Linked DNA regions of Homo sapiens. The protein of the gene in region 1 interacts with the protein of each later gene in a pairwise test. Each region holds a gene or a part of one and is shown in the gene's direction. Other genes may lie near its edges.

Region 1 (3,749 bases):
CACACACATATATATACATATATGTATGCAAGAATATAAAATATACATGTGTGTGTGTATATATATACACACATATATATGTCCCTTGCAGCCAAGTCTAATTCTAACTAATACAAACTAACTCTAAAAAATGAATATATATTCACCAGGGGATAGGCTATTTCAAGCAGAGGGAAGCCTGTATAAAGGCTCAGGGAATGCCGTGGTTTTATGTGGCAGCAGATGAGACTGGAAATGAGTCAGGATGAGCCACAGTGGAGGATGAATTAAATGGGCAGGAGTGTGGTAGAAAGACCTGTTGGAGGCTATGAATGCAATCAAGGTGACAGACAACTGGTGCAATGATGGTAGTGGAAATGGAGGAGAGGGGATTGATTCAAGATGCATTTAGGACCAAGAATCGGGAGCTTGTGAACGTGTGTATGAGTACTGTAGACGGAGTGGGTGTGTCATCAGAGAAGATCTGAGCATTTGGGCTTGCTCTCCTCAGAGGCCCTGCGAGTGGAGTTCAGCTTTTCCTCATGGGGCAAATCTCACTTTCGCTCCAGTTCCTGGGGCTCAGAGTCCCTGGCCCAGATGCCTCTTGCCATCTCATCTTCACCCTGCCTGGCTTCCCTTGCTTGTTCCAGGATTGTTTCATAAAGAGGGATGTGGTTGGTCTTTAACCCTATGAATGCTGGCTGAGGATGCCTGCGGAACCTGTAGTGAAGCTTTCAGGGGCTGCTCGGGTTCTGGCTGGTAGGTGAACACTGTCCATCTTGCCGGCTGGGACACAGTGACTCTGGGTAGTTGTGTAAGAGAGGGGCCCTTGGCAGACAAACAGGTTCTTCTCTGTTGGTGGGCCAGCCAGCAGGTCAGTGGGAAGGTTAAAGGTCATGGGGTTTGGGAGAAACTGGGTGAGGAGTTCAGCCCCATCCCCCGTAAAGCTCCTGGGAAGCACTTCTCTACTGGGGCAGCCCCTGATACCAGGGCACTCATTAACCCTCTGGGTGCCAGGGAAAGGGCAGGAGGTGAGTGCTGGGAGGCAGCTGAGGTCAACTTCTTTTGAACTTCCACGTGGTATTTACTCAGAGCAATTGGTGCCAGAGGCTCAGGGCCCTGGAGTATAAAGCAGAATGTCTGCTCTCTGTGCCCAGACGTGAGCAGGTGAGCAGCTGGGGCAGAGGGATGGGGGTCACAGTCCTAAGGGAGGGCATTGCAGGTGGCCTCAGGGGAGAGCCTGGGGTGGCCCCTAAGACGTCCTCTTGGAACATTTTGGCAGAGTTGCCTCTTCGCCCTCATTATGGCTCAGTTTTTCCACCATGAAATGGGAGGGAGGGAGACAGGTGGGCAGGGGAGAGGTGGTAGAAGTGGCCTAGAGAACTGTTCCTGGGGTCTGGGACCTTTGCGAAGGGGTTAGAGCACCACGCTCCCTGCTATGTGACTGAGGTAGCAAGAGCACGCCCTCTTCCCATGTCTGAGGAAGACACCCTAGCCTCCTTGACTCACCTAGGTCAGTCCTCTTGAGCCCCAACAGCTCTGTGCTCCCCAGCCCAAGGAAGGGGTAACAGGATTTCGGGCAGTTGCCCCTGCAGAGGCCCCCTGGGCAAGTCCCCTGCGCCATGTCCCTTCGTCTCCTTCTTCCCCTAACCAGGCCTCCCTCCACCTGTCTTCTCAGAGCAGGTAATGGCAAGCATGGCTGCCGTGCTCACCTGGGCTCTGGCTCTTCTTTCAGGTGGGTCTCCGACCCTGACTTCAACGTGGGGGTGTGGGTGGAGGCTGGCCAGAGGGCCCTGTCCACCCTGGGGGAGGAGAGCCCAGGCCCTGATTACCTAGTCCCTCTCCACAGCGTTTTCGGCCACCCAGGCACGGAAAGGCTTCTGGGACTACTTCAGCCAGACCAGCGGGGACAAAGGCAGGGTGGAGCAGATCCATCAGCAGAAGATGGCTCGCGAGCCCGCGTGAGTGCCCAGGGGAAGGGGTGTAGGCGAAGGGAGGAGACAGCTGGGCCATGCCATGATGACCTGCCTCTGCTGCCTCAACCTCTGTGGCCGCTGCTGGGACAGAGGAAAGGAGCGGTGCTAGCTCTGTCTGCAGATCCCGGCCATCCTGGGCTCTTTAGCGCCCTCTGCCTGCAGCCCCCGCCTTGACAACTCCGTAGCTGTTGCCCCCTTGCTCACTGAGGCGCGGGACCTGGGATCAATCGGGAGGACGCCCGCTGCAGTCCCCAGAATCAAAGGATGATGTGGCGCATCTATGTTTCTTTGGAGAGTGTTGTAGGTCTGGATTTGTATGGGCAATGTGTTTGTGCTTCGTGCGTGAGTTGTTACTGGCCAGGGCTAGGACAAGAGCCCTCGACCCTGGGGCCAACGCCCTGCGTCCTTGGTTCCCCCAGAGGATCAGTGCGCGATGACTTGGGGACAAAGGAGATGATGGAGGCTAGCAGTCTGACGGCCTGGATATCTGTCCCCTTCTCCAGGACCCTGAAAGACAGCCTTGAGCAAGACCTCAACAATATGAACAAGTTCCTGGAAAAGCTGAGGCCTCTGAGTGGGAGCGAGGCTCCTCGGCTCCCACAGGACCCGGTGGGCATGCGGCGGCAGCTGCAGGAGGAGTTGGAGGAGGTGAAGGCTCGCCTCCAGCCCTACATGGCAGAGGCGCACGAGCTGGTGGGCTGGAATTTGGAGGGCTTGCGGCAGCAACTGAAGCCCTACACGATGGATCTGATGGAGCAGGTGGCCCTGCGCGTGCAGGAGCTGCAGGAGCAGTTGCGCGTGGTGGGGGAAGACACCAAGGCCCAGTTGCTGGGGGGCGTGGACGAGGCTTGGGCTTTGCTGCAGGGACTGCAGAGCCGCGTGGTGCACCACACCGGCCGCTTCAAAGAGCTCTTCCACCCATACGCCGAGAGCCTGGTGAGCGGCATCGGGCGCCACGTGCAGGAGCTGCACCGCAGTGTGGCTCCGCACGCCCCCGCCAGCCCCGCGCGCCTCAGTCGCTGCGTGCAGGTGCTCTCCCGGAAGCTCACGCTCAAGGCCAAGGCCCTGCACGCACGCATCCAGCAGAACCTGGACCAGCTGCGCGAAGAGCTCAGCAGAGCCTTTGCAGGCACTGGGACTGAGGAAGGGGCCGGCCCGGACCCCCAGATGCTCTCCGAGGAGGTGCGCCAGCGACTTCAGGCTTTCCGCCAGGACACCTACCTGCAGATAGCTGCCTTCACTCGCGCCATCGACCAGGAGACTGAGGAGGTCCAGCAGCAGCTGGCGCCACCTCCACCAGGCCACAGTGCCTTCGCCCCAGAGTTTCAACAAACAGACAGTGGCAAGGTTCTGAGCAAGCTGCAGGCCCGTCTGGATGACCTGTGGGAAGACATCACTCACAGCCTTCATGACCAGGGCCACAGCCATCTGGGGGACCCCTGAGGATCTACCTGCCCAGGCCCATTCCCAGCTCCTTGTCTGGGGAGCCTTGGCTCTGAGCCTCTAGCATGGTTCAGTCCTTGAAAGTGGCCTGTTGGGTGGAGGGTGGAAGGTCCTGTGCAGGACAGGGAGGCCACCAAAGGGGCTGCTGTCTCCTGCACATCCAGCCTCCTGCGACTCCCCAATCTGGATGCATTACATTCACCAGGCTTTGCAAACCCAGCCTCCCAGTGCTCATTTGGGAATGCTCATGAGTTACTCCATTCAAGGGTGAGGGAGTAGGGAGGGAGAGGCACCATGCATGTGGGTGATTATCTGCAAGCCTGTTTGCCGTGATGCTGGAAGCCTGTGCCA
Region 2 (3,649 bases), on another chromosome or scaffold:
GGAGGATCACCTGAGGTCAGGAGTTCAAGACCAGCCTGGCCAACATGGTAAAACCCTGTCTCTACTGAAAATACAAAATTAGCTGGGCGTGGTGGCAGGGGCCTGTAATCCCAGCTACTTGGGAGGCTGGGGCAAGAGAATCGCTTGAACCTGGGAGGCAGAGGTTACAGTGAGCTGAGACTGCACCATTGCACTCCAGCCTGGGCCACAGGAATGAAACTCTGTCTAAAAAAAAAAAAAAAAAAAAATCTGGGCACAGTGGCTCATGCCTGTAATCCCAGCACTTTGGAAGGCTGAGATGGGTGGCTCACCTGAGGTCAGGAGTTCGAGACCAGCCTGACCAACATGGTGAAGCCCTGTCTCTACTAAAAATACAAAAATTAGCCAGCCATGGTGACGGTCACCTGAAATCCCAGCTATTCGAGAGGCTGAGGCAGGAGAATTACTTGAACTCGGGAGGTGGAGGTTGCAGTGAGCCGACATTGCACCACTGCACTCCAGTCTGGGCCACAGAGCAAGACTCCGTTTCAAGAAAAAAAAAAAAAGAGAGAGAACAAGCATCAGAACATATTATGATTATGATTATGATTATGATTATGATTATGATTATTATTATTATTATTTTTGAGTCAGAGTCTCGCTCTGTCACCCAGGCTGGAGACCAGTGGCATGATCTTGGCTCACTGCAACCTCCACCTCCCAGATTCAAGTGATTCTCCTGTCTCAGCCTCTCAAGTAGCTGGGACTACAGGCATGTGCCACCACGCCTGGCTAATTTTTGTGTTTTTAGTAAAGACAGGGCTTCACCATGTTGGCCAGGCTGGTCTCGAACTCCTGACCTCAGGTGATCCATCTTAGCCTCCCAAAGTGCTGGGATTACAGGCGTGAGCCACTGTGCCCAGCCCGCTTGTTCTCTTTAAAAAAAAAAAAAAAAAAGGCATGAGGCTGGGTGTGGTGGCTCATGCTTATAATCCTAGCACTTTCGGAGGCCAAGGCCAGAGATTGCTTGAGGCTAGGAGTTTGAGATTAGCCTGGGCAACATAGTGGGACACGGTCTCTACAAAAAAGTTAGTTGGGCATGGTGGTGTGTGCCTATAGTCCTAGCTACTTGGGAGGCTGGGGCAGAAGGGTTGCTTGAGCCCACAAGTTCAGGGTTGCAGTGAGTTATGATCAAGCGATTGCACACCAGCATGGGCAACAGAGCGACACACTGTCTCCTTAAAAAACAAAAAATCGTTATGACATGAGGCCAAAATAAAAATATCCTGTAGGATGTTGATAAAGAGTGGATGGGTGGCAACTATAGTTTGTTTTTCCTCTACTTAGTATTCAGCTCTTTAGTCAAAATTGCTGAGATTTTCTTTTTCAAAGTGTTGTTTGAATTACATTGGTAGCAGTTTTTACTGAGGAAAGACCTAGAGAAGTTTTCATTACAGTAAGTATATGTGTGAGTTTAAGTGTAAAACTTTGAAAGAGGAAAGAAACTAACATTTAGTGGACAGGCCCTAGCAGTGTTCTAGGTACTTACGTGTGTGTCATTTTCTTTCTTTTATTTTTCTTTTCTGTCACCCACTGACTCTCAGATATTTAATTTAATCCACCTGCCAACTATGTGAAATACATATCTTATCTCCACTTTACAGATGAGGAGACTGAGATTTAGAGATACTTAAATACCTTGCCCATAATTATACAGTGAACTCATATTTGAACTCAAGTCCTCCTGTGCTCAGAGTCTACAACACCACCATATTATCCTGGGAGGCCAGATAGGATAGTATGGTATAAGTTAGCAAGTTACTGTAAGAACTTGTGCCAGCAAGGCCAGCTGTCAGAGCTCTGATTCTAACTTTCACGTGTTAGTTTCCACATGTATGACCTTAGTTAATTTACTTATCCTCTCTGCACCTTAGTTTCCTCATCCCTAAAGTGGAAATAATAATAATACCCACCCCAAAAAGTTGTTGTGAGATGAAATTAGATAATATATTTTAAAAACACTGATGCTCATGCCGTGTGCGGTGACTCACGCCTGTATTCTTAGCACTTTGGGAGGCCGCGGCAGGTGGATCACCTGAGGTCAGGATCACCTGAGGTCACCTGACCAACATGGTGAAACCCCATCTCTACTGAAAATACAAAATTAGCCAGGCGTGGTGGCGCATGCCTGTAATCCCAGCTACTTGGGAGGCTGAGGCGGAGGTTGGAGTGAGCAAAGATCGCGCCATTGCACTCCAGCCTGGGGAAGAATAACAGTGAAACTCCGTCTCAAAAACAAAACAAAACAAAAAACACTGATGCTCACACCAGTAATCCCAGCTACTTGGGAAGCTGATGAGGAAGAATCACTTGAGGCCAGGAGTTCGGGACCAGTCTAGGCACCATAGCGATACCCATCTCAACAAAAAATTTGAAAAGTAGCTGGGTGTGTTGGCACACACCTCTAGTCCCAGCTACTGGAGAGGATGAAGCGGGAGGATCACTTTAGCCCAGAAGTTTGAGACTGCAGTGAGCTCTAATCACAATCACACTACTGCATTCCAGGCTGGGTAACTGAGTGAGACCCCATCTCTTAAAACAAAACAAATAAACAACACTGATGGAACACAGTAAGAGGTCAGTAAATGTTAGCTTCTGTTATAAAGGTATTTCAGACAGCTTCTCTGGGGTTAGTGCAATTGATTATTAGAGAGGGTTGTGCCACCTGAATTGAAATATAAATAATCTAGCACTGTCCACCATGACAATGTGGAGAAAGCAAATTTAACATATGGGTTGTTTTAGTTGAACATTTAAAGCATCACTTTTGCATAAAATATACCAGACCCCTTTTGTGCTATGAAACTATGGAACCCACTCTTTGGAACTCCATCTTGACTGGATGAGGTTTTGGCTTCCCTGGGACTTGAAGGAAAAGGAAGCTAGCTGTTGGCGCCAGGCCCCCGAGATTTAAGAATCCCATCTTGCGGCCAGGCACGGTGGCTCATGCCTGTAATCCCAGCACTTTGGGAGGCCAAGGCGGGCGGATCACGAGGTCAGGAGATTGAGACCATCCTGGCTAACACGGTGAAACTCCATCTCTACTAAAAAATACAAAAAGTTAGTGGGGCGTCGTGGTGGGCACCTGTAGTCCCAGCTACTCGGGAGGCTGAGGCAGGAGAATGGCATGAACCCGGGAGGCAGAGCTTGCAGTCAGCCGAGATCATGCCACTGCACTCCAGCCTGGGCAACAGAGTGAGACTCTGTCTCAAAAAAAGAAAAAAAAAAAAAAAGAATCCCGTCTTGTTTTGAGCTGGGAGCAGTGGCATGCACCTGTAGTTCCAGCTACTCAGAAGTCTAAGAGGGGATTGGAGGATCTCTTGAACCTAGGAGTTCAAGTCCAGCCTGGGTAACATAATGAGACCCTGTCTCTAAAAGAAAAAAGAATTCTTTCCTGTTTCTCCACCAGGTCTGGCCCCAGTACTCTGAGGAGAATGTGTCCTTGTCCTGTTGGAACTCAGTCAGATGCCTGAGGGTCAGACTCTAGGTTACTTATTAATCAGAGGGGACTTTTTTTTTGGAGGGGGACAGGGTCTCGCTCTGTCACCCAGGCTGTAGTGGCACTGTCATGACTTACTGCAGCCTCAGACTCCTGGGCTCAAGCAATTGT

Evidence for each region. The genes of interacting proteins can lie anywhere in the genome.
Region 2: the proteins of APOA5 (region 1) and MORN4 interact in binary tests that used the Homo sapiens proteins (3 or more experiments, as listed by UniProt).

What each region holds. Positions count from the first base shown.
Region 1 is NC_000011.10:116,789,777-116,793,525, reverse strand, and holds the start of APOA5 (apolipoprotein A-V precursor), read left to right. Parts: upstream 1-1,646; 5' UTR 1,647-1,665; coding exon 1,666-1,714; intron 1,715-1,828; coding exon 1,829-1,940; intron 1,941-2,458; coding exon 2,459-3,398; 3' UTR 3,399-3,749. UniProt on the Homo sapiens protein: Minor apolipoprotein mainly associated with HDL and to a lesser extent with VLDL. May also be associated with chylomicrons.
Region 2 is NC_000010.11:97,623,354-97,627,002, reverse strand, and holds part of MORN4 (MORN repeat-containing protein 4), read left to right. Parts: intron 1-3,649. UniProt on the Homo sapiens protein: Plays a role in promoting axonal degeneration following neuronal injury by toxic insult or trauma.